Linked DNA regions of Homo sapiens. The protein of the gene in region 3 interacts with the protein of the main gene of each other region in a biochemical or structural test. Each region holds a gene or a part of one and is shown on either strand. Other genes may lie near its edges. The genes, in order: L3MBTL3, FBP1, DNMT1 and BRAP.

Evidence for each region.
Region 1: the proteins of DNMT1 (region 3) and L3MBTL3 form a complex in vitro, tested with the Homo sapiens proteins (one study listed by BioGRID and IntAct).
Region 2: the proteins of DNMT1 (region 3) and FBP1 form a complex in vitro, tested with the Homo sapiens proteins (one study listed by BioGRID).
Region 4: the proteins of DNMT1 (region 3) and BRAP form a complex in vitro, tested with the Homo sapiens proteins (one study listed by BioGRID).

The regions. Positions count from the first base shown.
Region 1 is NC_000006.12:130,014,009-130,021,582, forward strand, and holds the start of L3MBTL3 (lethal(3)malignant brain tumor-like protein 3), read left to right. Parts: upstream 1-4,572; 5' UTR 4,573-4,656; exon of another isoform or gene 4,657-4,736; intron 4,737-4,792; exon of another isoform or gene 4,793-4,946; intron 4,947-5,051; exon of another isoform or gene 5,052-5,229; intron 5,230-5,312; exon of another isoform or gene 5,313-5,455; intron 5,456-5,635; exon of another isoform or gene 5,636-5,705; intron 5,706-6,256; exon of another isoform or gene 6,257-6,660; intron 6,661-6,718; exon of another isoform or gene 6,719-7,574. UniProt on the Homo sapiens protein: Is a negative regulator of Notch target genes expression, required for RBPJ-mediated transcriptional repression. It recruits KDM1A to Notch-responsive elements and promotes KDM1A-mediated H3K4me demethylation.
Region 2 is NC_000009.12:94,629,514-94,636,535, forward strand, and holds part of FBP1 (fructose-1,6-bisphosphatase 1), read right to left. Parts: intron 1-7,022. UniProt on the Homo sapiens protein: Catalyzes the hydrolysis of fructose 1,6-bisphosphate to fructose 6-phosphate in the presence of divalent cations, acting as a rate-limiting enzyme in gluconeogenesis. Plays a role in regulating glucose sensing and insulin secretion of pancreatic beta-cells.
Region 3 is NC_000019.10:10,191,953-10,198,892, forward strand, and holds the start of DNMT1 (DNA (cytosine-5)-methyltransferase 1), read right to left. Parts: upstream 3,002-6,940; 5' UTR 2,948-3,001; coding exon 2,868-2,947; intron 1-2,867. UniProt on the Homo sapiens protein: Methylates CpG residues. Preferentially methylates hemimethylated DNA. Associates with DNA replication sites in S phase maintaining the methylation pattern in the newly synthesized strand, that is essential for epigenetic inheritance.
Region 4 is NC_000012.12:111,682,935-111,690,388, reverse strand, and holds the start of BRAP (BRCA1-associated protein), read left to right. Parts: upstream 1-4,432; 5' UTR 4,433-4,596; coding exon 4,597-4,678; coding exon of another isoform or gene 4,679-4,801; intron 4,802-7,081; coding exon 7,082-7,243; intron 7,244-7,454. UniProt on the Homo sapiens protein: Negatively regulates MAP kinase activation by limiting the formation of Raf/MEK complexes probably by inactivation of the KSR1 scaffold protein.

The DNA.
Region 1 (7,574 bases), on a different chromosome or scaffold from region 3:
TGAGTACTATACCCCCTTTTTTCCCCCTCAGCATTTCAATTACATTTCACTATCATAAGCTTTGTGCTGAGTGTTGGATACAGATGTATCACAAGCAAGAGATTGGTATTCAAATGAAAAGAACTATAAGAACATTTCAGTGTTATCTAGAACATTAACAGGAAGACCAGACTCAGCTCTTACAAATATCAATGATAAGAATTTTGGCCAAATCAATGTTAACATCATTTTTACAGTTGGAAAAACACAGAGCACACAATTATATAGGCTAAAAAAAATCAATAACTTGACTCATATGTAACAGTAAGATAATACATTAAAAGGATGATTTCAAGAATTGTTCTTTTAGAAAATTTCTATAGAAAGGTTCAATTTTACCTTAAGACTTGTGACCAATAGCACACATTGTAACATGGGGGACCGGGGTTAGGAAAGCAGTCTGTGGCTATGAAACAGATCAAAACTAACTAGCCATTAGGGAATGAAACCCATGACCTCCATCTCATTAGTACCAGGCTTAAGCCAAGCTGAATGAGCTATTCATTGATAACATTATGATACCTATTGGATGAGCCTTTACTCTTTACTTAAAAATCCCTTTCTCGGTTCCATATTATTTGTACTAAAATATGATTGTGTTGCTGTTATGTGAGAAGGAGTAGGGAGATACATGGCTTTCAAGGAGACTTCAGAAATCAGACTGAGCGCAGTGGCTTATTCCTGTAATTCCAGCACTTTGGGAGGCCGAGGCAGGAGGATCACTTGAGCTCAGGAGTTTGAAACCACCAGGGCAACATAACGAGATCTCCATCTCTACAAAACATAAAAAACATCAGCCAGGCATGGTGGCATGCTCCTGTAGTCCTAGCTACTTGGGAGGCTGAGGTGGGAAGATCATTTGAGCTTGGGAAGTCGAGGCTGCAGTGAGCTGTGATTGCGCCATTAAACTCCAGCCCAGGTGACAGAGCAAGCCACTGCCTCCAAAACACAACAACAAAAACTTCAGGAAGCAGGGCCAATTAAAAGGAAAAAAAAGGGAAAAAATCAATTACTCTGTTTACTTTATCTAAGTAGGGAGAGAACTGAAGCTCCTAAAACGTGAGGTGACATGGCTAATGGTTCCCAGTGGTGGTAGCAGAACTGGATTAGAACACCAGTCTCTTGGACTTCACTCCTGGGCACTTTCAATTTGTGAAGGGCTGGCTCATGGAAAATGTAATCCTTGAATTTTTCCAGGACATGAGGGGCCTGTCTTATCAATGCAGGACAAGCATAGTGTTAGGAAAAGGGTGCTAAGCATTTTTGTTTGTTTGTTTGTTTGTTTTGAGACAGAGTTTCGCTCTTGTTGCCCAGGCTGGAATGCAATGGTGCAATCTCGGCTTACTGCAACCTCTGCCTCTTGGGTTCAAGTGATTCTCTTGCCTCAGCCTCCCAAGTAGCTGGGATTGTAGGCATGCACCACCATGCCCAGATAATTTTGTATCTTTAGTAGAGACGGGGTTTCACCATGTTGGCTGGGCTGGTCTCGAACGCCTGACCTCAGATGATCCATCTACCTAGGCCTCCTGAAGTGCTGGGATTACAGGCGTGAGCCACCACATCCTGCAGTAGCTAAGATTTCTAAAATGAAGTGCATGCAGCATCGACATTCCAGGATGGAGTACAGTGAGAAGTTTTGAATGACATCCATGAGGGTGGGGGATGGGGTGATGAGAGGCTTCAAAAATTCTCTGGAGAGTGAGTACAGTGATTTGTTTAAAACATTTTCTATGTAAAATGACTTTAGCTTCAGAATATTTGGGAATGTAGTAACCTGAAATCATTTTGGGGTGGACAAGTTTGGATATAAACAAATAAATATAAAGAAAAATAAAGGAGTGAGCTCATAGCTGAGTGTGGGACGTCAGGGAAGTTATAGACCTGAACCTGAAGCATGGATTTGGTATTTACATGTGGCAGGGTGGAGGAGGGTGGGATGGGAAGGTGGGAGAGTGGTAGAGGATGATGAGATTAAGTGATGCCGGAAAGAAGGCATTCATCATGAATCATTAACAAGTGAGTGAATGGTGGAAGGTGGAAGGGATGGCAAAGAAGCCTCTGCTAGTATATTACTATTTAGTGAACAGACGGAGAAAGGTCTGGTAAATAGTACACATTTATGCGAAGAATAAAATCATGTTACCTAGCTTCTAATAATGTATTTTACCTCTGTTTTAGATAGTGGCACCAAAGGATTCTTTGTAGAAAACTTTGACAGCAGCCTTTAAAGTCATTATTCCTACAAGTGAGTACTTTCAAAATCTTTACTATCCTGAACCACATCTTGAGAAAAATTGAGATGAGGTTTTAATAATGATCTCCGGAGGAGAAAGAGTGTATCATAGAGAGCCTCAAGTCATCCTTATTTCTGTTAGTGAACCTCTGTCAGTACACTTTCTAGGCAAGCCTTGCTCTTGAAACACTCGGACCTTTACTCAGGACTTCTCTGATTGGTTCATGTTCCCAGACACCTTCTGGGAAGAAGAATGGCATCATGTACCCTGGATGTTTGTCCTTCAAGAATCAGCTTAGCCATCACTTCTAATGTAAAGCCTTTCCTTATTGCCACTGGTGCTCAACTGTGTTTGCTCTACATACCTCTGCTATAACATTTTCCATATAACATTACTGTAACATAATGCCCAATTTACTACACTGTCTCTCCACCAGGCTGAATTTCTTGTAGCTGGGGCCTAGTTTTGGTCACCTGTTTATCCCCAGCACCTTGCAGAGCACTTAGCACAGGTAGGCCATTAATACACATTTATAGACTGTTGAACCAGTATCACTGAAAACATAAGTACAACAGAAATATCATCTAGAAATTATCTTGAGAGAAGGAATCTAAAATTGATTTTTCAGAAAGAGGAATCTAAAATTAATTTAGTTTCCATGGGGGCAAGGTCTTAGTTTTGTACATAGCTCATGCCCTTTCTTTCCTTCTCCTGCAGTTTGCCTTTGGCCATTTCACTGCTTATTATTCAAGGGCTAGAGAGAAAAGGAGAGAAGCTGAAATTCAGATCAGTTAATTAAGCTGTTTGGGAACAGCTCTGAAAAGGGTTGAATGTGGTGGGTGAAATCAATAGTGAACTGGTGGTTTGAGATCATCTACAGCTCTCACTACCCAGCCTTCTCTACTTCACACCCCTCAGCCAACGGCTGTTCAACGTATGAAGCATTTTATAAGTTCATTTCAGCTTCACAGGATTTGTCCGTTTGTTCTGGAGTACATGTTAAGGCATATGGCCTGATTTTTGGTTTGGAGAATTTGGTCACTACACCAACATTAGATATATCGGGTGGTCTGCTTCTATAGGGTAATTTCATGGTCCTAAGGAAAGAATTTAAGAGTTTATGTTCTGAAACTGGTTCAAGAAACATTCCTTAAGTGAAAAAATTCAATCAAGAATAATATTCCCTACACTGGAGAAGGATTTTTAATATAGAACTTCCATCTGTGATATATTTAAATTCTAGGCCTCAGGCAGCAGTTTCAGAAAAGGGCCTCCTTTACCCTTTATTAGATGCAAAATAGTCTACTCTGGGGATGGGAACTTCCTTTTACCTCCCCCCCCCCGCAAAATCTAAGACATGCTTCCCTCATTCCTAAAATCACACATGCTTTTTTTTTTCACACAGCAAACTCTGCTATTGACATCAAAATGTTTATCAAAACTTTAATTACTCGAATTATTTTGTAAGTACTCCTATTAAGTGGAAAAGACCAGTGAAGCTGTCCAAACGGCGGCCCGCAGTCAATGCGCCGAAAGCTGTCAATACTGAAATGTAATACTCTCTTGATCTAGTTTTGACGCTTTAACAAAGACAGGTTTTGCCATTTAGGACCGCTCAGCCATCTTGACTGAATACCTTAAGAGGGTAGTCCTGGACCTGCTTATTGCCAAGGGACTTTCACAGTGTTCTAAGTTACTGTAGGAATCTCAGCCTATTACTCGACAGAGGCCTAACATGTTGGAGCTGTCAATAAAGATCCGCACTTAGGAAGCGGAAAGAAGGCACAAGTTTTATATGCACACTTTCTTTATTATGCATTGTTCCAGCCATCAAAGAGAGGGAGATTGTACTCTCCCAAAGCTTACAACTTTGTTACTTTTCATGACCTGTAGCATGTATTTAGCCTTTGGGCAGTGTTTGTGCAAGACTAAGGCCCACTCTTTAATGGCTGAATGCATACATTTCACAGCACATGGTGGATTCGCTGCTCTGAGAATTGCCTTTAAAAAAAGTAAAGTGAAAAATAGACAAAGAAATCTGGAACCTTAGCAGTGTTTCCTATTTGTTTGGACTGTTCTTGAACCAGCTCTGAGGCGGTGACCGGGCTATTGAAAAGATGCACCTGAAACAGGATCTGCGGGCAGCTGCATTTGCCACCCGGCTTTATTGCTGCTTTCCAGCGGCGAAGGCGCAGCAGCAGTAACAGGGAAGCCAGAGCGAGCCTCCCCGGCAGCGGCGGCGGCGGCGGCGGCACCGGCACCAGCGCAGTTTCCCCTCTCCCCAGCCCTGACTCTACGCGCACATGCGCATTGCGCCCGCAGCCCTGGACCATTTGTCAGGACTACTCGTGAGACGGAGAAAAAAAAAAGAGAAAATTTGGGGGTAAGAAGCGGTTGATCGGATCTAATCTCTAATTAATCTGAAGATTTGTCCGTGCAAAAGCCATTCATTTATTTTTCTGGGTGAGGATGAAAGTTAAGAGCCCTATAGAGGGAAGGAAGCGCACCCTCGTCTTGTGAAACAGATCAGGGGAGGGGAGGGACAGAAGGGGTTTCTCCCCCACTTCTCTGCGCCTCTGGGAAAGAGGAGAAAACTTAATCCCGGGGAAAAAAGTGGGCAAGTGACTCGGAAACGGCTGGAGGGGGAGTCTCTGGGCATCTCACTCTGAAGTAGTGAGTGCGAGTGTGAAAGAGGAACAAAAGAGAGAGAAAAGAGAAAGGAAAAAATGGGGGGAGGAGAGACTTGTATTTTTTTCTTTGCGCGCACACGGGGAAGGGTGTGGGGGGCCGTGCGGAAGGGAGCCGGGGCGAGGCGGCCGCGTTGGGCTCAGGCTGGCGCGCAGGCGGCGGGATGCGTGTGGCCCCCTCCCCCGCGCCCCCCGAGCTTGTCACTTTGGTCGCTTTCGTGACACCGGGCGCGGGGTGGGGGAGCGCGGCGGCGCCGGGCTCCACCGGGGTGCGTGTCCGGGTGGGCGCCGCGGAGCCGCAGCCCAGGCGGCGAGCGCGGCCGCCGAGGCGGGGGGCGCCGGCGGGGGGCGCGGGGGCGGCCGGGGCCGCGGATCGGTGCGGCGGGAGGCGCGAGCCCCGCGCGCCGCCCCTGCGGCCCCCTCCGCCCGTGTGGCCTTTGTGCCGGGCGCGCACCGGAGAGCGAGCGAGCGGGCGGGCGAGCGCGAGAAGTACAAGTACGGGAGACCGAGGCAGTGGGAAAAGAGGCCGGGCCACTTTCTCCCCTTTCGGGCTGCGGAGAATGGACTGGTTGAATGTGCAGGCGCGTCTCCCCGGCGTGTGCTGTGTGTGTGCGCGGCGGAAAGGCCTGCCCGACTCCCACCGCGCACACGCACACTCACACGCACGCACACACACGGACCCGCGGCGGGGCTCGGCGGCCGAGAGTTTGCGTGGCTTCCTCGCCGCCTCCCTCTTCCCAACCGAGTGTGTGAGAATTTCATATAGATCAGCTCCAATTTCCGCCATTTTGGGAAAGTTGCACAAAAATAAACCCTCCGGTTTATTTCTGCCCGAGGCAGGAAAGTGCTTTGGGAAGCGAGGCGGCGCGGGCCCGCGGCGGCCGTCCGCGCGGGAGAGGGCGCGGGCCGCGGGCCGGGCCGGGAGCCCGCGCCGTCGCGGCGTTCGCCCCGCGCCGTGCCGCGCCGCGCCGGCCCGGGTGCGGGCGCGGGCGCGGGCGTGTGTCGGGAGGCGGCGGCGGCGGTCGCGGCGGCGGCGGCCGCGCCGGGGCGGCGGGCTTGTGGGGGGAGGGTGGGGGCGGCGCGGGGCTGCTTTTCCTGCAACTTGTTTACGCCTGCCTTATTCTGGGGAGGAAAAGAGGGGTCGGGGCCGGGGCCGGCGCCGGGGCCACCGCCCGCCTCGCGCCGCGTGTGTGTGCGGTTCCGGAATAATGGGCTTTGCACACTCGCGTCCTGGGCCCCGCGGGCCGTCCTCGCGCCGCGGCGGCGGGGCGGGGGGAAGTAGAGGCCGGCGGGGGTGGGGATCGGGAAGCGCAGGAGCCGAGGCATCCGCCGCGCGCCCCGCGAGCTGGTGGAGTGTGGGGGCCGCCGGGCGGGGAGAAAAACTTGAGAGCCCTGGAAGGGGAGGAGGGCACGGTGGCACGGGCGGGGGGAGGGCGCAACTTTTGGACTGGTGGTAAAACTTTAATTACCTTTAAAGAAAAAAAGGCCCTGCGATTCCCCCCTCCCCCAGTCCCGGTCAAAGCACAGCCCGCAGCGCGACCGTGAGAGAAAGTTTAAAAGCGGGCGTGTTCCTCCCGGGTCCCCGCGGAGGGCTGGGGGCGTCGGTCTGTCCGTCGCGCTCAGAGGGAGGTGGGGGTAACTAGCCGCTTTCCAGGGCGCGGGGACCGCGGCTCTACCCCACCCTTCCACGGGAGACGGAGGTAAACGTTGCTTCGGTTTCCCTTCTGAGTCCCCCTGCTGCCACCACCCCGCTTCCTTTTCCTCCCCCTCCCCGCCGATTTTTTGAGGGGACCCGAAAAACGGAGTCCCTTTCCTTAGGCAACTTCCTCGGGCGCTGTGAGCACGGCCCTCCCCCTCACCGCCCCCACCCCCAACGCCTCGCATCCCTTGGCCCGCTTCTCCACCTCGGGGCCACCGCCAGAAAAATGCATTCGAGATCATTCAGAGTGCACAGAAACAAAAATAGATTTTTAATTGTTAGGTTAGGGGAAACTGAGATGAGAAATAAGAATTTGGGGTGGGGGGGCGCGGCCGGGGCGAGTGCGTCCAGTTCTCCTTTTGGTTTTCCTAGAGCGTTGTTTGTGATGTCTTTATTGGTTTAGGGAGTCCGAGAGGCTCTATGCTGGCTATCTCGGTCGCGTGGATTTTTGCGCAAGTTTTTAGAAAAACACTGACTCGAGTAGAGAGCATTTCTCCGGAAAGTTTCAAGTGCAGCAAAATAGCGAACGTGCAAAACTGGCCAAGGGGAGACCTCTAGTGGTTGAACGCGTCTTTTAAGTTCGGAAGGCCGAGAGCAAAGTTTGGCCTTTACTCGTAGCTACGTAGTCCGTTCAGACGTGGAAGTAATTAGAGGACCTGAGCGAGCAGCCAGATGTTGTGTGAAAGGATGCTGATCAGAAATTGAAAGTTTAGTAAATCGAAGCAATGAATTCTGAGGACTCAGACCCTGTAACTTCCATCCGACATGAGTTATATGGGAAAGACACTTTGCTTTTATTCAGAGATTTGAGATTGATCGCTCCCTGAATTGGAAACAATTGTTTGCTTTTGCATTTATCGGTGTCTGTACCTCTGATCAATTTTTAATTAACGAGTCTCAGCTGATGACTTTATT
Region 2 (7,022 bases), on a different chromosome or scaffold from region 3:
GCAACAAGGAAGGATCAGAGCCTGAAGCTGAAGGCACCAGCCTCCAGGAGATCTTCCATGGTGCCAGGAGCCTGGAAAATGTGTGCAAGAGTGAGACACCAGCATTGGTGACATCACATAACCCCCACTCCTGGGGAGGTAGGGGGGAGGGTCTAGTCTCTCAACCCCCACCAAGAGAGGACCGGGAGAGCCCTCAGGCATGGAAGCATGACCTTTATGGGGCATTGTCTTCATGGCCTTAGGAATGGCCCACTCTCTTCTAAGAGCCACTGGGAGGGAGGGCACAGACAGGGCTGCCACCCCTGGAAATGCTACCTAAAACCTCGATCTTAAGAGGCCTGGGCCCAACCTGCTTTGTACAAGAATGCCAAGAGTGGAGGGCCTCTGAGCTCACCTCACCTGTTGGGCCATCCTGAGGATGGCACAGCCCTCTACCTGGGACATTCGAAATTAGAACCTTACAGGCAGCCAGAGGTTTTTCTAGTGAGGTCTGAAGCAAAAGTACAGGGCACCAGGTAAATGCCGAGTGTATACTCCAAGGGGACCGAAACTCTTACATAAACATGGCACATCTGAATGTGCCTCTGGAGGAAGAAAGACCTATCAGTCTTGATCCTGGAAAAAAGAATATTTTGTTCACCATGTATCCTTAGCACCTAGAACAATGCCTGCACATAGTAAGTTCTCAATGTAAATGGATGAATAAATTTAGAGAGTAATAAAAGGATCCAAGAATTCCTAAGATCATAAACTCCATTAGACCCAGTGGTATTGGTAATGCCTGCCTGCATAACCTCTACCATCCAACACTCCCAACTCCTGAAAAAAACCCTCCAGATTAGCATAGCTTCTTGGTAAAAGTGTGTTTGCTGTGCAAACTTAGCGTTAGACAAATGCAATGGCCTTTCACCCGGTTCCTCAGGAAACTAGAGTGTAATGGTCAAGGCCCCAGGCTGGCACTCTACACCACCAGGGTTCCAATCCCAGCTCTGCTCCATGCTCAGCAGCCGGGGAAAGTCACTTAGCATCTGTGACCTCTGGTTCATCTGCAATATGGGAATGTAGTGTGTCTGCTTCATAGTCTACAGAGAGGGGGCATAACTGAGTTGATACAGGTAAAGTGGTCAGAAAAGTGCCTGGTGCATAGGCAAGTGTGCAAGAAATATTACCGTTTCCACCTCTAGCTCCCTTGGCATAACACAACCATGCGGAGAAGCAAGAACTCAGCACCAGAAAGACCTCAGTTCAAATTCTGCCTTTGCTTCTTACTGATGATGTGACATCAAGTTGTGCAAAGCCCCTGAGTGGCTGTTTCTGGCCATGTTTGTGGGGATCATGGATAATGCGCGCGGTGCACCTGGTTCATAGTACTCCCCACCAAGGCAGCCACATGACAATAGAGCCCCGCAGGCATCCACTAAGTAAGTGTGGGTTGATCTGGGGATTGGGGGAAGGGGAGGTATCTCTAAACCAGTTTTGCAGGCAACTTCTTGGAGGACAGCCAATAAGGAACTGGCAAAAGAAGAAAAAAGTGCTCCAAGTTTACATTTGATAAAATCTCACTGGGAATATTATTTATTTGAGATGTTCTTGACATTTCACTTCAATTTTATTCAAATTAGTTGGCCCTGCAGCCCAAGTAAAGTGGAAAAGCACCAGGCAGGGTTGAAGTCTCTGTGTCCTTTCCCTTTCCAGCCCCAGAGATACGAAGGAGCTCTTCCTGGAGTTTGGGGAGCAGAACTCAACTGGAGAAACTGCCTATAATATCTCTTCTTTACTTTTACTGTAAATCCCACTGAAAAATTTAAAGAGCTCTAAGTCATTTTAATTCATATGATGGAGAACACCTTAGAAGCATAGATTAATGTGGCCAGTATTTTGAAATCCTTGGATATTTTAATTAAATTTTAGCATTGTTTTCCAAGTTTACAAATGGTTTCTAAAACAGAATGAACCATTTCACAGCCATGGACTTTGTGACACTGAACATGCAGATTTGTGATGATTGGGGGAGGCTGCCTTCCACAGCATCTCTAAAACACTGAAGGACACAAGGATTGGAGCCAGGGGCTGACAGAACTAGAGCCCTCCAGGGCTGCCTGGATCTGCTGACTTAGGACCATCTCCTCCCGAAGTCACTGTGACTGAGTAACACGATTGCAGCAGCAACACTTCACACAGCACACAGAAGAACCAGACTCGGGCTCGGAACACGCAGCTCAACCAAAAGGGAGGGAGATTATTACTTAATCCTTATCACTAAAGTCAAAGGTAAGACTGGCTTGTTACTGCTTGATTCCATGGTAATCAACCATTTGCCCAGCCAGGAACATCCAAAGGTTCAGAAATACATTGAAGAGGTGCTAGTGAGAGCTGCTTTCAAAGGTCACAAATACCTGCCTCTGCTTGCATTCACCGGGGCCTAAACTGGTAAACAGGATGGAACGTGGCTGTCTGCGCTTCTTTTATGCAAACAAACTTGCAATTTCACTCCTTGGTCATGTGGAGAAGAGAATTCAAGAAACATAAAATAAATCTGGTAAAGTTTCTAAAAGCTTAATGCCAAAAACTGCAAATTGGAAGATAAGCCTAAACGTGTATTAGCTGACGTGTCATTCTAAAACGAAATCTGAAGCTCTTTATTATTTCTTCTGTCAAACAGCTGAGAGGACCCCATATATAAAAGTAACTCTTCTGGACATAATATGAGTCTGATGGGAGGACATTTCCTGCAGCCACTCTTGGGTGCAACATTGTTCTAATATGTAACATGCTAGCCTGGACTCTCTCCCTGCTGATAGCATACAGGCTACTGCTAAGAAATGAAGAACAAAACATGCAAATAAAAGTTTACAAAAAAATGAAAATAAAATAGACCAGGCACGGTGGCTCACACTTGTAAGCCCAGCACTTTGGGAGGCTGAGGCGGGTGGATGACGAAGTGAGGAGTTCAAGACCAGACTGGCCAACATAGTGAAACCCCGTCTCTACTAAAAATACAAAAATTAGTTGAGTGTGGTGGCAGGAACCTATAATCCCAGCTACCTGGAAGGCTGAGGCAGGAAAATCACCTGAACCTTGGAGGTGGAGGTTGCAGTGAACCGAGATCACACCACACCACAGCCCTCCAGCCTGGGTGACAGAGCTAGACTCTGTCTGAAAAATAAAGAAATATAGCCTTCAGGAAAACAATGATATTAATAACATTGGTACCCAATTAGTAAACTTAATTGATCCTCCTACGAGTCTCTGAGGCTGTCTCCATCTTAACAATTGGAGAAACAGGTTCAGTGATGTCACATCAACAGCCCAATCCTCACAGACGTTGAATGGCAGGGCCAGGAATCTAAGCTTGGCTCCATCTCTCTCCAAAACGTGCTCTGAATCCCTGCACATTCCTGTCTGCTAAACTGGTCCAGATCTCCTCCTCTTTTCTCTGCCTCAGGGCAAGCGTGCCAAAACAGACAGGCAAAACAGCCTGCAGCTGGACAGCATCTCCCAACAGATCACCCTCTAACATCTCAAGTTCAGCGTTTCCAAAATGTTGGGATCATCTTCCCTCCTTCCCCAGACTAAAAACCAGCTCCTCCTTGTTTTTGTTTTTGTGTTGTTTTGTTTTGTGGTGGCATGGGCTCTGCATTCAATTGCTAGGACCAGCGATTTCAGAAACTCCCTCACAGCCCTTCTCATCTAATCCATGCTCAGACTTCTTCCAAATCCTTCCTCTCCCCTCCAAGGCTGCAGCTCTGCTGGCTACTCAACTGACGGCTCCCCCTTGCCACTGGTTTTCCCATATCCTATCTTTCGCTCTTCCGATATACTTCCAGCCACACCTTCTCCAGATTTGTCTCCAGTCACGCAACTGCCCCACTCAAAAAACTTTCAAAATCCTTGATCTCTCCTTTTCTATACCCCCAAAAGTGTAAAGTGTTCACCCTTGCCATTTGATGCTTCCCCAATGTACCCACAATTTCACATCCACGAACGCCCTACCATGAGTACTCCATGCTTTGGTCAAATTGAGTGGGCAACTTTTCCAGAAACACTTTCCCACCTCAGGACTCCTCCCCCTGTGACCTCCAGCCTGAACTGCGGTCCAGCCGCCGGGCCTTTTGCTTCCCCTGCACGTGCCCATTCTTGGCGCTCCACAGTCCTTCACCATGAATCGTATTTTTGGCACCTCTATGAAAGCATCTTTCTTTTTTTTTTGAGACGGAGTCTCCCTATGTCGCCCAGGCTGGAGTGCAGTGGCGCGATCTCGGCTCACTGCAAGCTCCGCCTCCCAGATTCACAACATTCTCCTGCCTCAGCCTCCCAAGTAGCTGGGATTACAGGCGCCCGCCACCACGCCCGGCTAATTTTTTTGTATTTTTTGGTAGAGACGGGGTTTCACCGTGTTGGCCAGGATGGTCTCGATCTCCTGACCTCGTGATCCGCCCGACTCGGCCTCCCAAAGCGCTAGGATTACAGGCGTGAGCCACCGCGAAAGCATCTTTCAGACCGGGCGCAGTGGCTCACGCCTGTAATCCCAGGACTTTGGGAGGCCGGGGCGGGCAGATCACCTGAGGTCAGGAGTTTGAGACCAGCCTGACCAACATGGAGAAACCCCGTCTCTACTGAAAATACAAAAAAATTAGCTGGGCTTGGTGGTGGGCGCCTGTAATCCCAGCTATGGGAGGCTGAGGCAGGAGAATGGCATGAACCCGGGAGGCGGAGGTTGCAGTGAGCTGAGATCGCCCCACTGCACTCCAGCAAGGGCAACAGAGCGAGACTCTGCCTCAAAAAAAAAAAAAAGAAAGAAAAAGAAAGCATCTTTCAAAACCTCTATTGCGTGTTAGAACGATACAAATATTTTTTCCTACAGAGTAAACTCTGTGTTGTTCTCGTCTTCTGGAACTTTGTACATGGTGGATGTTCAGTAATATTTTGTTAATTGAATGAAATCAGTGAATTCTTCAGTCAGTGATTTGGAAATGGATACAAAGGGAAGTCAACTCCACAAAACAAAAAACCTGAAGCCACTGGAGCACCACTTTCTCCCAAAGGAATGCAAAGTGGACAACACTCGAATTTGACATTTGAACCACAACTTCATCAGCTTGACTTCAAGTTGCAGACTGTTCTGATCTGCACAGTTTCTCTCCCAAGAGTGGATGGAGGGAGCCAGAAGCCCAGAGGGAAGTCTCCCAGGGCACATTTGCCCAAAGCAATGACTCCTTGGTATCTAAGCCTGAATTCACATCAAAAATGTCGCCTGGCCAACATGGCTAAACCCTGTCTCTACTAAAAATACAAAAATTAGGCCGGGCGCAGTGGCTCACACTTCTAATCCCAGCACTTTGGGAGGCCGAGGCAGGTGGATCACTTGAGGCCAGTTCGACCCTGGTCAACTTGGCAAAATCCCATCTCTACTAAAAATACAAAAATTAGCCAGGTATGGTAGTGTACGCCTGTAATCTCAGCTACTCGGGAAATTGAGGCAGGAGAATCACTTGAACCCGGGAGGCAGAGGTTGCAGTAAGCTGAGATTGCACCACTGCACACCAGCCTGAGTGAGAGTGAGGCCCTGTCTCAAAAAAAAAAAAAAAAAAAAAAAACCAGTTAACTAATAGATGAGATTTAGAGTTTGGTGAATTCTAATTGATTTCTAAAAAATAAAGGAAGAGATGTGTAGTGTGGCCAAAAGACCTCCAATCCGGGGTTCCTGAGATCCCGGCCACAGGCCAAGTCATCTCATCTTCCTCGGTCTCAGGGTCCTCTTCTGTATGAGGAGGTGATAGACTAGCTGACTGTTGAGTCTCTTTCAGTCTAAAACTCAATGATTCCATGAACATTTTAACAGGAGCAATGAAAGTGACTACAATAGCAACTTTAGGTTACACCAGGCTCTGTGCTTAAACTCCTGATGTTTCCATAATGATCCTGGGTGAGCTCCCTAAACTGGCTCCAGTGAGGTTCCTGCAAATCTGCAATCACCCCGTCCCTCTGGGTACATGCTCTTCTAGGTCCGGTCTTCAGCACTAACAAGATCTTTGCAGGAATGCTGGTTTTTCTTTCTGGATTTCAATGCCTGGAATGAATGTAGGTTGGGGGCCTGGCTTGAGAATCATGCTACCTGCCTGATGACATGTGATACTGAAAATGGCCAAACGCTGAACTTCCCACAAGATCACCTCAGTGTCCAGCATCTAGTCCTGTCAGCTACCCCAACAACCAGGCATGCACACCAGTTCCAAGGGTACAGCACTGTAATACCCAAAGGCTAGTAAAAACCAAAGTGCCCCAAAATAGAGAAAAACTTCAATACCTCATGATGTGTGCAGGGGAGCAGCACACAGCAGTTAAAAGGAGGTAGATGTAGATGTCCCGATATTAATGGATGTTTCTTGAATAATGTTAAATAACAAAGCAAACTACAGAAATGTGTATTGTGATCCCATTTTGTCTGCTATTATAGGCATATGTAAATATGTGTTCATGTGTAAACTTATATGACTGTAAAAGAGTATCCGGAAAAATAAGCAGTAAATTATTTGCAGTGGATACCCCATGGGATATATATGGGGTGGGTTTCACTCTTCCCTTGAATTCTTTTGAATGGTTTAAATTTTTGTCAATGAGTGCAACATAGTATTTCTTTAAAACCTGGTATTCACAACTATCTAGTATAAAAGTACACATATTGGCCAGGCACAGTGGCTCATACCTGTAATCCCAGCATTTTGGGAGGCCAAGGTGGGCAGATCGCTTGAGCCCAGGAATTTGAGACCAGCCTGGGCAACATAACAAAACCCCATCTCTACAAAAACACAAAAATTATCCGGCATGGTGGCACATGCCTGTAGTCCCAGCTACAGGGGAGGCTGAGGTGGGAGCACCAATTCAGCCTGGGAGGTTGAGGCTGCAGTGAGCCATTATCACACCACTGCACTCCAGCCTGGGCAACAGAGTGCGACTCTATCTCAAAATAAATAAATAAATAAAACGCATACCTTACGTAGCCAAAATTAACATGCTTCATC
Region 3 (6,940 bases):
CTGCGATTACAGGCACCTGCCACCATACCTGGCTAATTTTTTTGTATTTTTAGTAGAGATGGGGTTTCGCCACGTTGGCCAGGCTGGTCTCAAACTCCTGACCTCAGGTGATCTGCCCATCTCAGCCTCCCAAAGTGCTGGGATTACAGACGTGAGCCACCGCGCCCAGCCTTCTAAAAAATTTTTTAAGGATTAACTTGGGCATGGTGGCATGTGCCAGCCACTCAGGAGGCTAAGGCAGGAGGATTGCTTGAGCTCAGGGGTTCAAGGCTGCAGTAAGCCATGACTGTGCCACTGCATTCCAGCCTGGGTGACACAGTGAGATCCTGTCTCTTAAAAAAAAACTGAAAAAAACAAGCTAAGTTAGCCACTAGCATGTGAACCTTTATGTGCCATGCATATTCTCATTTAACCCAATACCAGCTGAAAACCCATGTCATTATTCCTAGACTATGGATATAGAGGTGGCATACGCTTGTTTAAGGTCATTGAGCCAGTGGAGGTCATGTTTTCAAGAAGGCTGGGCAGGCTGGGCATGGTGGCTCACACCCGTAATCCCAACACTTTGGGAAGCTGAGGCAGGAGGATCGCTTGAGGCCAGGAATCGAAGACCAGCCTGAGCAACATGGCAAGACCCCATCTCTACAAAATAAAAAAAAGGAATAAAAAAGGAAGGCCGGGCCCAAACTTCTCTGAATTGGGTGTAACATCATGAAGCCAGGCACTTTCATAATTTCACTTCCATTCCATTTTAAATCAAGTTTTATTTTGGGAGAATACTGGCACAGATGATTCAAGAAGATATATACCCACTAACTGGTTAAGAAGTGGTTTGACTATAATCCCAGCACTTTGGGAGGCTGAGGCAGGTGGATCACGAGGTCAGGAGTTCGAGACCAGCCTGACCAACATGGAGAAACCCCGACTCCACTGAAAACACAAAAATTAGCCAGGCGTGGTGGTGTGCACCTGTAATCCCAGCTACTTCGGAGGCTGAGGCAGGAGAATCACTTGAACCCTGAAAGTGGAGGTTGCAGTGAGCCGAGATCACGCCACCGCATTCCAGCCTGGGTGAAAGAATGAGACTCCATCTCAAACAAACAAACAAAAAAAAGTAGTAGTTAAGGCATGATGGCTCATACTTGTAATCCTAACCTTTGGGACACAAAGGCAGGAGGACTGCTTGAGGGCAGGGGTTTAAGACCAGCCTGGGCAATATGGTGAAACCTCACGTATACAGAAACAAAAACTAAGAAAGTCATCTGGGCATGGTGGTGGGCGCCTGTGGTCCCAGCTACTCAGGAGGCTGAGGATCCCTTAAGCCCAGGAGTTCAAGGCTACAGTGAGTTATAATTGTGCCAGGGCACTCCAGCCTGGACAACAGAGTGAGACCCATCTCTAAAAATAAAAAGTGTTTCTTTTTTTGAGACAGGGTCTCACTCTGTCACCCAGGCTGGAGTGCAATAGCGCGATCTCAGCTCGCTACACACAGCCTCAACCTCTGGGGCTCAAGTGATACTCCCACCTTAGTCTGTTGAGTAGTTGGGACCACAGGCGCACGGCACTACTCCAGGCTAATTTTTGTATTTTTAGTAGACATGGGGTTTTGCCTTGTTGCCCAGGCTGGTCTCAAACTCCTGGCTCAAGAGATTCGTCCGCCACTGCCTCCCAAATTGCTGGGATTACAGGCATAAGCCACAGCACCCAGCCTTCAAAAAAAAAAAAAAAAAGAAAAGAAAAAAAGCGGGGGTTGAACCAAATATCCATCCCTCCCCAAAGACCCAAATCAGAACCGGACTGGCCCAACCAGGTCAGTTAACAAGCCTAAGGAAATAGAAAAATGGCAAAGAGTGCTTTCACAAATCCAGCTGGAAGTGTCCACGCCTGGTGAGGGTTCCTCTGACTCACGCACACCTCACTTGAACAAGTTTTCAGGAATGAACTGATGGCGTTCATGAACAAGGGGCTGGGACCAGTGCTCCCACTGATCCTTGTGCACGGAAGTTGGACAGAGGCATGAACTGCTAAAGCCAGGGCCTCCAACATTAGACACACACTAAAGAACACACCCATGAACACACACAAACACACACGAAAGTGTAGCCAGTTCTCATTAGCAAGACTTCCCTGATGCCCACGGCTCACAGGCACAGATTTACAGGAAAAGACCAACCATGCAGCCTTCACGCTTCCCGGGCCCTGCGCTGCAATGCACGGTTAAAGTTCCTGCCAAAACATGGACTTTCCCAAGGAGCAAGAACCACACAGTCCCAACTGACAGAATGAGTACCCCACGGAAGGCTGGGCTCTCGAACATGAGCCAGCCCAGCCCAGGCCCCGACGGGTGACATCCGTCTCTGGAGGCCGCCATCGAGATGCACAGCTTTGGGGGAAAGGCACTGAGGGACCCCCCACCACAGAAGCGCCCCCGGGGACCGGGCCGGACACCGGAAGTGGAGGCCGAAGTGCCGGTGCCCGAGGGGTGTCCGTTGGCCGCGGGCTGCCCACTTCCTGTGCGACCAAGCTGGAGTCAAGAGCCCGGCCCACCGCTGCTTGAAGAAGGGGACCCCGGAAACGAACCCAAAGCTTGCTGTATTTGGGGATCAAAAGAGAACCCCCACCCCGCCTAGTTTCTAGCCACCAGGGAGCTACGGGGGAATCCACGGTCCATTTTGGCGCCAAACAGCCCGGGCACGCGCGACCGGAAGTGCCACCCTGCCCGCGCCAACTGCCGCTGCGCGCCGCACCACCCCACGCATGCGCGCCCGTCTGTCAGCAGCGGCCACCGGCCACCCCGAGGGGAAGCGACCCCCCACCCAGCGCCCTGCCTGTCCCCCTGAGTCCGTGTTCCCCCCCATGGTACCTACCGCCTGCGGACATCGTCGGGCAGCGAGATGGCCGGGACGGCCAGTGTGGGCACCCGGGCTGGGGCGGTACGCGCCGGCATCTCGGAGGCTTCAGCAGACGCGGCGGCGGCAGCGCAGGCGCCCCGGCTTTTCGCGCGGAAACCGATGGGGAGGGGCGATGAGCGGAGGCGGCGTCTACCACCCCAGTCCGGGCGTGGGGGAGGAGGGGATGTACCAAACGGAGAGAGGCGATACCCTGTGCAGAAGGATGGAACGGAGCCGGCCATGCCCAGGGAACACGCATGCGCAAGGCGGGCACACACCCCCCCCACGCGGAGCAGTGGGCTCGTCCAAGCTCCACGGTTTGCTGGGAGGTGGGCACGGTGCCCGAGGCATTCATTCATTCATTCTTTCAGGTGTGATGGGGATAAAGCAGCGAGAAGCCCCCAAGGGTTTGTGAGAGCCCTTGAGTAAAGTCCTCAGTTCCAATCCAACCTCCATCTATTTGCTGGCTATACGACCTTAGGTGGGTCACTACGGCTCAGCCTCTGTGTCCTCATCTGTAAAACGGGGTAATTGCACCTACTCTAGAAAATCTTGAGTATACACAGAATTTGTAGCTAGTACCAAGAATCTCACAGTGTATAGAGGCCCATGCCACTTCTATACCCAGTGTGTGGGGGGTTTTTTGTTGCCTTTTTTAAGCACCACGTGGCTCACGCCTGTCATCCCAGCACTTTGGGAGGCCAGGGTGGGAGGATCGCTTGAGCCCAGGAGTTTTAGACCAGCCTAGGTAACATAGAGAAACTGCATCTCAAAAAAAAAAAAAAAGAAAGAAAGAAAGAAAGAAAAAAAGAAAAACAAAAATTAGCTAGTCGTTGTGGCATGTGCCCATAGTCCAAACTACTCCAGAGGTTGAGGCAGGAAGATCACTTGAACCGGAGAGGCAGAGGTTGCAGTGAGCCATGATTGTACCACTACATTCCAGCCTGGGAGACAGAGCAAGACCTTGTCTCAAAAAAATAAAAATAAAAAGTAAGAATAAATTAAGAAGCACCATGTCAGGCGCAGTGGCTCACGCCTGTAATCCCAGTGCTTTGAGAGGCCCAGGTGGGAGGATCGCTTGAGGTTAGGAGTTCAAGACCAGCCTGAGCAACATAGGGATACCCCATCTCTACAAAAAATACAAAGATTTGCTGGGCATGGTGACACACACCTGTAATCCTAGCTACTTGGGAGGCTGAGGTGGGAGGATGGCTTGAACCCTGGCAGTGTAGGCTGCAATGAGCCATGATTGGGCCACTGGACTCCTGCCTGGGCGACAGGGTAAGACCCTGCCTCACTCTGTCACCCCGGCTGGCGTGCAGTGGTGAGATCTTGGCTCACTGCAACCTCTGCCTCCCAGGTTCAAGCGATTCTCATGCCTCAGCCTCCCTAGTAGGCTGGGATTACAGGCGTACTCCACCACGCCTGGCTAATTTTTGTATCTTCGGTGGTAGAGACAGGGTTTCACCATGTTGGCCAGGCTAGTCTGGGACTCCTAGCCTCAAGCAGTCCACTTGCCTCAGCCTCCCAAAGTGCTGGGATTATAGGCCTAAGCCACCGTAACCAGCCAGAATTTTTTTTTTTTTTAAAGCACCAGAACATGGGGGAAAGATTGTGTCTTTAACAAATGGTGCTGAGAAAACTGTATAACCACATACAAAAGAATGAAGTTGGACCCTTACCTTACACCATATACAAAAACACAAAACTTATTAAAGATTAAACATAAGACCTGAAACTATAGTGCTCCTAGAAGAAAACATGGGGAAAAGCTTCATGACAATGGATTTGGCAATGATTTCTTGGATATGACAGCAAAACACAGGCAACAAGACAAAAGATAGACAAATGGGTTTGCAACAAACTTAAGGATAGCTATACAGCAAAAGAAATGACCAACAGTGAAAAGGCAACCTACAGAATGGGGAAAAAAAAAGTTTGCAAACTGTATTATCTGGTAAAGGGTTAATATCCGGAATATATGAAAAATTACAGCCAGGCATGGTGGTTCATGCTTGTGATCCCTGCACTTTGGGAGGCCCGGGTAGGCAGATCACTTGAGCCCGGTAGTTTTAGACCAGCCTGAGCAACATGGCAAAACCTCGTCTCTACCAAAAAAAGAAGAAAAAAATTATATAAAAAATAAATTACTACCCGTCAGGCTTGGTGGCTCACGCCTGTAATCCCAGCACTTTGAGAGGCCAAGGCGGGTGGATCACCTGAGGTCAAGAGTTTGAGACCAGCCTGGCCAACATGGTGAAACCCTGTCTCTCCTCAAAATATAAAAATTTGCTGGGCATGGTGGTGTGCCTGTAATCCCAGCTACTCGGAAGGCTGAGGCAGGAGAATCACTTGAACCTGGGATGCGGAGGTTGCAGTGAGCCGAGATTGCACCATTGCGCTCCAGCCTGCGCAACAAGAGAGAAACTCTGTCTCAAATAAAAATTTAAAAAATAATAAATTTCTACAATGCAACAACAAAAACTCGATTTACAAATGAGCAAATGGGCTGGGTGCGGTGGCTCACACCTGTGATCCCAGCACTTTGGGAGGCCCAGGCGGCAGGCGGATCACGCGGTCAGGAGATCGAGACCATCCTGGCTAACGTGGTGAAACCCCATCTCTACTAAAAATACAAAAAATTAGCCAGGCGTGGTGGCAGTCGCCTGTAGTCTCAGCTAATCAGGAGGCTGAGGCAGGAGAATGGTGTGAACCCAGGAGGTGGAGCTTGCAGCAAGCCGAGATTGCACCACTGCACTCCATCCAGCCTGGGCAACAGAGCGAGACTCCGTCTCAAAAACAAACAAAAAGAGCAAATGATTTGAATACATACTTTCCCAAAGGAGATATGCAAATAGAAAACAGGCATATGAAAAGATGCTCAACATCACTGGTCATCAGGGAAATGCAAATCAAAACCACAATGAAATATCCCTAAGACCCCTTAGAATGGCCACTGTCAAATAATAAGTGTTGGTGAAGATGTGGAGAAACTGGAACCCTTGTGCACGGTTGAGAGTCGAATAAAATGGTGGAGCTGCTATGAGAAACAGCATGGAAGTTCCTCAAAAAAATTAAAAATAGAATTATCATATGATCCAGCAATCCCATTTCTGGATATAAATTCAAAAGAATTGAAAAGAGGATCTTAAAGAGATATTTGCATACCCGTCTTCATTGCAGCATTAGTCACAACAGCCAAGAGACAGGAAAAAAAAAAAAAAAGATCATATTGCTGCTAAGAGATGGGGTCTTGCTGTGTTGCCCAGGCAGGTGTCAAACTCCTGGGCTCAAGGCATACTCCTACCTCAGCTTCTTAAGTAGCTGGGACTACAGGTATGTGCCACCACAATGGGCTAACTTTTTATATTTTTTGTAGAGACAGGATTTCTCCATGTTGCCCAGGCTGGTCTCAAACTCCTGAGCTCAAGCGATCTGCTGGCCTTGGCCTCCCAAAGCGCTGGGATTACAGGTGTAAGCCACTGCACCCAGCCTAATTCAGTCTTTAAAAAAGAAAAAATGGCCAGGTGCAGTGGCTCACACCTGTAATCCCAACACTTTGGGAAGCCAAGGCGGGTGGATCACCTGAGGTCAGGAGTTCGAGACCAGCCTGGCCAACATGGAGAAACCCCATCTCTACTAAAAATACAAAATTAGCTGGACATAGTGGCTCATGCCTATAACCCCAGCTACTCCGGAGGCTGAGGCAGGAGAATTGCTTGAACCCTGGAGGTGGAGGTTGAGGTAAGCTGAGATTACACCATTGTACTCCAGCCTGGGCAACAAGAGGGAAACTCCATCTCAAAATAAATAAATAAATAAATAAATAAATAATATAAAAGTAAAAATACAAAATTAGCTGGGTATGGTGGCATGCACCTGTAATCCCAGCTACTTAGGAGGTTAAGGCAAGAGTACTGCTTGAACCCGAGAGGTGGAGGTTGCAGTGAGCTGAGATCACACCATTGCACTCCAGCCTGGGTGACAAGAGTGAAACTCCGTCTCCAAAAAACAAAAGAAAAGAAAAAATATCTTATTATATGCTACAA
Region 4 (7,454 bases), on a different chromosome or scaffold from region 3:
CACGTAAGTACTTAACACAAACTTTGTTTCATGCACAAAATTATTTAAAATATTGTATAAAATTACCATCAGGCTAGGTGTATAAGATATATATGAAACATATATATATAAGTGAATTTCATGTTTAGCCTTGGGTCCCAACCCCAAGATATCTCATTATATATACGCAGATATATCAAAATCCAAAATCTGAACTACTTCTGGTTCCAAACATTTGGGACAAGGGATACTCAACCTCTATAAGCACCTAGAGAAAGGACTCTTAAGTGGTAAATCTTGAATATAATGTGTTTCTCATCTATAGTCAGCCCTCTGTATTTGTGAGTTCCACATCTGCAGATTCAGCCAACTACAATAGAAAATATTCGAAGTAAGGCCGGGTGCAGTGGCTCACGCCTGTAATCCCAGCACTCTGGGAGGCCGAGGCGGGCGGATCACAAAGTCAGGAGATTGAGACCATCCTGGCTAACACGGTGAAACCCCATCTCTACTAAAAATACAAAAAATTAGCCGGGCGTGGTGGTGGGCACCTGTAGTCCCAGCTACTCAAGAGGCTGAGGCAGGAGAATGGTGTGAACTGGGGAGGCGGAGCTTGCAGTGAGCCGAGATGGTGCCACTGGACTCCAGCCTGGGCAACAGAGTGAGACTCCATCTCAAAAAAAAAAAAAGAAGAAAATATTTGAAGTAAAACAAAACAAAACAAACACACACAGTAAGGGCACAGTAACTGACGCCTGTAATCCCAGAACTTTGGGATGCTAATGTAGGCGGATCACCTGAGGTCGAGAGTTCGAGACCAACCTGGTCAACATTGTGAAGCCCCGTCTCTACTAAAAACACAGAAAAAAAATTAGCCAGGCGTGGTGGCGCACACCTGTAATCCCAGATACTCGGGAGGCTGGGACATGAGAATCACTTGAACCAGGGAAGTGGAGGTTGCAGTGAACCAAGATTGCACCACTGCACTCCACATTCCAGCCGGGGTTATAGAGTGAGACTCCATCTCAAAAACAAACAAAAACCAACAAAAATAACAACACAACAATAAAAAATGCAAACAAAAAATACAGGTTAACAACTATTTATTTACACAGTACTTACACTGTTTTAGGTATACATACATATATATGCATGTATATATATTTATATATTTTGATATGGATATGATTTGATATATATATTAAATATATATATTTTTTGATATGGAGTCTCCCTCTGTCACCAGGCTGGAATGCGGTGGCATGATCAGAGCTCACTGCAACCTCCACCTCCTGGGTTCAAGCGATTCTCCTGCCTCAGCCTCCCGAGTAGCTGGGATTACAGGTGCGTGCCACCACGCCTGGCTAATTTTTGTGTTTTTACTGGAGACAGGATTTCACCATGTTGGCCAGAATGGTCTCGATCTCTTGACCTCATTATCCACCCACCTTGGCCTCCCTAAGTGCTGGGATTACAGGCGTGAGCCATCGTGCCCAGCCAGTATTATAAGCAATCTAGGGATTACTTAACTCATATCTTGCTTGCCCTGAGAATACTGTGCTGGCAGCGAGCTGCACTTTTTTTGCTTTCTTTTTTTTGTTTTGTTTTGAGACGGAGTCTTGCTCTGTCGCCCAGGCTGGAGTGCAATGGTGTGATCTCGGCTCACTGCAACCGCCTCCCAGGTTCAAGCTATTCTCTTGCCTCAGCCTCCCGAGTAGCTGAGACTACAGGCGCTCGCCACCACATCCAGCTAATTTTTTGTATTTTTATAGTGGAGACGGGTGTTAACCATGTTGGCCAGGCTGGTCTCGAACTCCTGACCTCAAGTGATCCACCGGCCTCGGCCTCCCAAAGTGCTGGGATTGCAGGCGTGAGCCACCACACCAAGTCAAGTACTTTTTTTTTCTAAATGGGAAATGGGTTAAAGCATATAGGAGGGTGTACATAGGTTATAAACAAATGCTACACCATTGTATATCAGGAACTTGAGCATCCACAGATTTTGGCATCTGCAGGGGGTCCTGCACCCATCTGCTGAGGATACCACCATGCAACGACAGTAATTGGAAATTTGCTGAATTTGGGGGCAATATTTGAAACTAAAAATGTCAAGGTTCATTTGCATTTTCAGTTTTACTTAACGTTCCTATGCCAAGGCCAATGTTTATGATAGAAAGAGAAATTTACTTACACACTTGTATATTTTGTGTGAGGGCTTAGTAGAGACGAAAAATGCCTTTGGGGGGGCCGGGCGCGGTGGCTCACGCCTGTCATCCCAGCACTTTGGGAGGCCGAAGTGGGCGGATCACAAGGTCAGGAGTTCGAGACAAGTCTGACCAACATGGTGAAACCCTATCTCTAAAAAAAAATACAAAAATCAGCTGGGTGCAGTGCTGTGTGCCTGTAGTCCCAGCTACTTGGGAGACTGAGGCAGGAAGCTTGAACCCAGGAAGCCGAGGTTGCAGTGAGCCGAGATGGCACCACTGCACTCCAGCCTGGGCGACAGAGTGAGACTCCGTCTCAAAATACAAAAAAAAAAAAAGGTTTGTTTGGTAAAGAGATAAAGAATGTTCGTTCTGGATTCAGATTGCCTGAATTTCAGTTCCAGCTCTGCCACTACTACCTGTGAAATCCTGAGCCAGTTACTCTTCCTCCAAGCCTCAGGTTACTCCTCTGTAGAACAGGGACATAGTACCAGTTTCATAAAGTTGTTGTGACCATTGCATGACACAAGGTATATGAAACACTCAAATTAGTACCTGGCACATGTTGAAATGTTATCTACTATAGTAATATACTAAAAAAGTTCACAAGAGGTCTCATAGGTTTTATGCATACAGTATGTGTGTATGGTTTATGCACTTTCACATAACCCTGTGATTCTTCAACAGGGTTATGTTTTCTAACCCCAAGGAGACATCTGGAAAGGTCCAGAGACATTATTGGTTGTCACCACCTGGGGAGAGGTGCTACTGACATCTAGTGGGTCAGGCCAGGGATGTTTCTAAACACTCTACAATGCTCAGGACACCCCGCCCCCTTGCCAAAAACAAAAAAGAATAATCAGGACCCAAAATGTTAATAGTGCAGAGTTGAGAAACCCTGATTTAAACAGGGCATATGGAAACGTATTTCATAGGATGTAGTCACAAGATCTATATACGCATGTATCTTGTGGTCATGTCATAGTCCAGATACACACACATCTAGAACGCACTATGTCCACACACACACACATCTAGAATGTACTATGTACTTACATATGTATCATTATACAATGTACCTAGAGTAGCATCCTGTCATGTATGTGTCCCATATGCATTGATTGTGTCAGTATCTACATACAAAAGCCACTCTGACATACTGGAAAGAATGCTGAGCCTCAGAAAAGCTAATGTTATCTCCATATACATAATTCCATTTCATCCTCACAACTGCATGAGGACATGATATCATGCCAACTTTATGCAATGACTATACTAGTTCAAGACTGCACAACTGCTGATGTAGGTCAACCTCATAGTACGGACAGGAACTGTGTTTATCTTATACGCCAACGTATCTCAAGCATCCCAAGGGTGTCTAGACTCTCAGTAAACATTTGTGAAGTGACAGGGTGGGGAGGAGGACCCCGGTCTAACTGCAGCACTATGCTCGTAACCAGCAGATCACCATCTTTTCTCTCTTTTTTTTGAGACGGAGTTTCGCTCTTGTTGCCCAGGCGGGAGTGCACTAGCACTATCTCGACTCACTGCAACCTCCGCCTCCCGGGTTCAAGCGATTCTCCTGTCTCAGCCTCCCAAGTAGCTTGGACTACAGACGCGCGCCACCAAGCCCGGCTAATTTTTTGTATGTTCAGTAGAGACGAGGTTTCACCATGTTGGCCAGGTTGGTCTCGAACTGCTGACCTGAGGTGATTCGCCCGCCTAAGCCTCTGGGCTGGGATTACAGGCGTGAGCCACCGCGCCCAGCCAGATCGCTATCTGAACAGCGATCGACTCTCCACTCTCTACGGCCCCTTAGAAGGAACTTCACCTCTCTGAGCCTCGTTGTACCTATCTGTAAAGTGGGACAGAAACAAAACCATCCAGACTAGGGTTAGAGACAGGAGTCAAACACAACAAAAGGGGCAAAGTTCTGCATAGCAGATAGCTCGGACAATTCGGAGACCTCGCGGAGCCAGGGATCCCGCGCCGTCAGCCGAGGTGGATTAGGACGAGGCCTCTGGAGCAAGCAGAGGTTAACTCGCGACTGTGCGAAAACCTGCAGCTCAGCCTAAGTGTGGCACCCCAGCGCAAGCAATCTCCACGACGTCCTTCCGCTCCGACCTCCTCAAAATTGCGTCCGGAAGAGCAGTGGGTGACCCCTGCCACGCCGCCCAATCGCTGTGCGCGGTCCTGCGCGCATGCGTAAACCGCAGGTCAGCGACGGCGGCCGGGAGGCGGAAGTGGAGGTTGTTGTGGCTCCGAGGGCTGTTCGAGGAGCTGCTGCTGCTGAGGCGGCGGCAACTGCATTGAGGTGGTGGCGGCGCTGCCGGCCCCGGGCCGCTCGGCCTCTCGGCTCGCCTTCCAGCCTCGCCTGAGCCCGCCGGGGCCCGCGCCGGCCAGCGCCTGCCCTATGAGTGTGTCACTGGTTGTTATCCGATTGGAGCTCGCGGAACACTCGCCTGTCCCCGCCGGCTTCGGCTTCAGCGCCGCGGGTGAGTCCCGCGGCCTCGCCGCATTCCCTGTAGCCGGGTCTGGGCCCGGAGGGCTTCCCTTCCCAAAGCACTGGCCCGGGAAAAGCCCGCGGCGAGGGCTGTTGCCCAGGAAGACACGGAGAGGTAATCGGGATCCCTCTCTTTCCCATCCGCCTTTGAGAGGCCTTCCCGTTTGTTATCTCAGGGAAGCCCTGCCCCGAACCTCCCTCCCTGTGCCGTCTGAGGGCATTTAGTTTATACCTGGCGCGTCTCCCTCTCGAGATAGTCGAGTGGTGTGTTTGTCTCACTTGCTTCCCTATGGGCTTCGTAAAGGCAGGGACTGGGTCCCCAGCAACGCTGGACGGTCCCTGGGTTAATTAAATTGTTCCCTTTTGGAACGATATCCATTGAAGTGCCCCCTAACCATAGTCATAACTAAAATTTGGACACTTCCTATATCCCAGCACTGTACTAAGCACCTTTTGTGTATTGTATTCTTTAATTATCTTTGCAACAGCCCTAAGAGGCAGATGGATGTGACATGTACCTCTTACACATTGGGAAACTGAAGCTTAGTGATTAATTGATTTGCCCAAGGTTATCTGTAATGGGTGAAACTGGGATTCTAACTCAGTGAGCTGGACTTGAGTCTGAGCTTTTTACACCATTAACACAAGTGAGGAAGCTCCTTAGTGGGGAATGCAGCTCTGGCTCTGTTCCTTGGTCCTCAGATAATTAACTAACATTCATTCAAGAAATACTTGGCCGGGCGCGGTGGCTCACGCCTGTAATCCTCACACTTTGGGAGGCCGAGGCGGGCGGGTCACCTGAGGTTGAGAGTTCAAGACCAGCCTGGCCAACATGGTGAAACCCTGTCTGTACTAAAAATACAAAAATTAGCTGGGCGTGGTGACAGGTGCCTGTAATCCCAGCTACTGGGGAGGCTGAGGCAGGAGAATCGCTTGAACCCGGGAGGTGGAGGTTGCGGTGAGCCAAGATTGTGGCACTGCACTCCAGCCTGGGCGACAAGAGATAAAGTCCATTTCAAAAAAAAAAACAAAAAAAAAACTTATGCTCATATCTGCTGGAGCCTTCCTTGTGTGCTGAATCAGACAGCGTCTCTGTTTTAATGGCACCAGCAGTATCATGGAGGAAACAGATGAATTAAATAAGTGCAGAATATGTGTAGAATTACAACTGTGGTAAGTGCTGTGAAGGAAAGGAGAAACAATTTGGGAAAGTATTACAAGAAGATGTGTTTGGTTTGGAGAGAGGGATGGGGGCAGGTAGGGATGGTGTCATTGGGAACTTCCTGAGGACGTGACCTTTGAAGCTGCAAATTAAAGATTGAATATGACTTTATAGCTTATGAGCACCTTTCCAAAGGCTAAAAGTGGCTTCTGAGTTCTGAGAGTCAGCTAAATTGATATTAGCCGCATATAGACATCTGCATGGGTCAGTCATGTAGTCATTTATTCATCAAACATTTAGAGGGCTTCCTCTGTGTGCTCGGCACTGTGGTATAAGGGCTGGGAATACAGTGGTGGGCAAAACAGGCCTTGTCCCTGCCCTGACAGAGCATGTATTAGGGATATTTCAGTTAAGTCTCCAAATTCCGTTTCCCTTTTCATGTGTTTCATTGATTTAAGACAGTAATCACAGATGTTCATGGCTTGGTTCATGGCATGAGCATAAGCCAGGATGTTTAAGACTACCCCTACAAGTTTTTGAAATTTTGTTTTTTTAATGGACTTGATAGCTTCATTTTGGGCTGAACACAATTTCATTTTATCAGGTGTTACTAAAATGTTAGCTCATCTGGGCATGATCACTGTTGCATCTTCTCTAAGGCTCCCTCTTTGGCGATTTGCTTTAAAGTGCATGATTTTGGGCCAGGCGCAGTGGCTCAAACCTGTAATTCCAGCGCTTTGGGAGGTCAAGGCGGGTGGATCACTTTGAGGCCAGGAGTTCGAGACCAGCCTGTCCAACATGGTGAAGCCCCATCTCTACTGAAAGTACAAAAATTAGCTGGGCGTGGTGGCACGTGCCTGTAATCCCAGCTACTCGGGAGGCTGGGGCAGGAGAATCACTTGAACCTGGGAGGTGGAGGTTGCAGTGAGCCAAGATCACACCACTGCACTCCAGCCTGGGTGACAGAGTGAGACTCTGTCTCAAAAAATAAAAATAAAGTGCATGATTTCAGTAGAACAGCCCTGCATTTCTGAGTATATTGTCCTGGCTGCTTATTGACTCTTTGCTGTGTACTGCAGTGGTCCCAGAGTTGAGTGAGATGGATACTACAAAGGCTTCTTATCATCTTGGCGGAAGGCAGGAGAAAGAAAAGGAAAACCTAATGATAGAGGAATAGAGAACAGAGAGGAGCTTGTTTTATTACCTTGTATTAATCATTCATGTGTTCTTTAGCCGGGGAAATGTCTGATGAGGAGATAAAAAAGACGACACTAGCCTCAGCTGTAGCCTGTTTAGAAGGCAAGTCACCAGGAGAGAAAGTAGCGATTATCCATCAGCATCTCGGCCGTCGAGAAATGACAGATGTGATCATTGAGACCATGAAGTCCAACCCAGGTATGCTTTCTAAAACCCTGGACTCTCTTTTGTAATGTGAACACTGGTTGCCTATTTTATACACGGTGTTTGATGAGCCTACAATTTCAACATCTAGCATACTTTTGTCTTTCACTACGTGTGTGCTTTATATGACACTGTTAAGCCACATGTTAGTGTTTCCAAATATTTCTTCCAAATTAATCCTAACAGTTGGAGTTGACAATTCAGT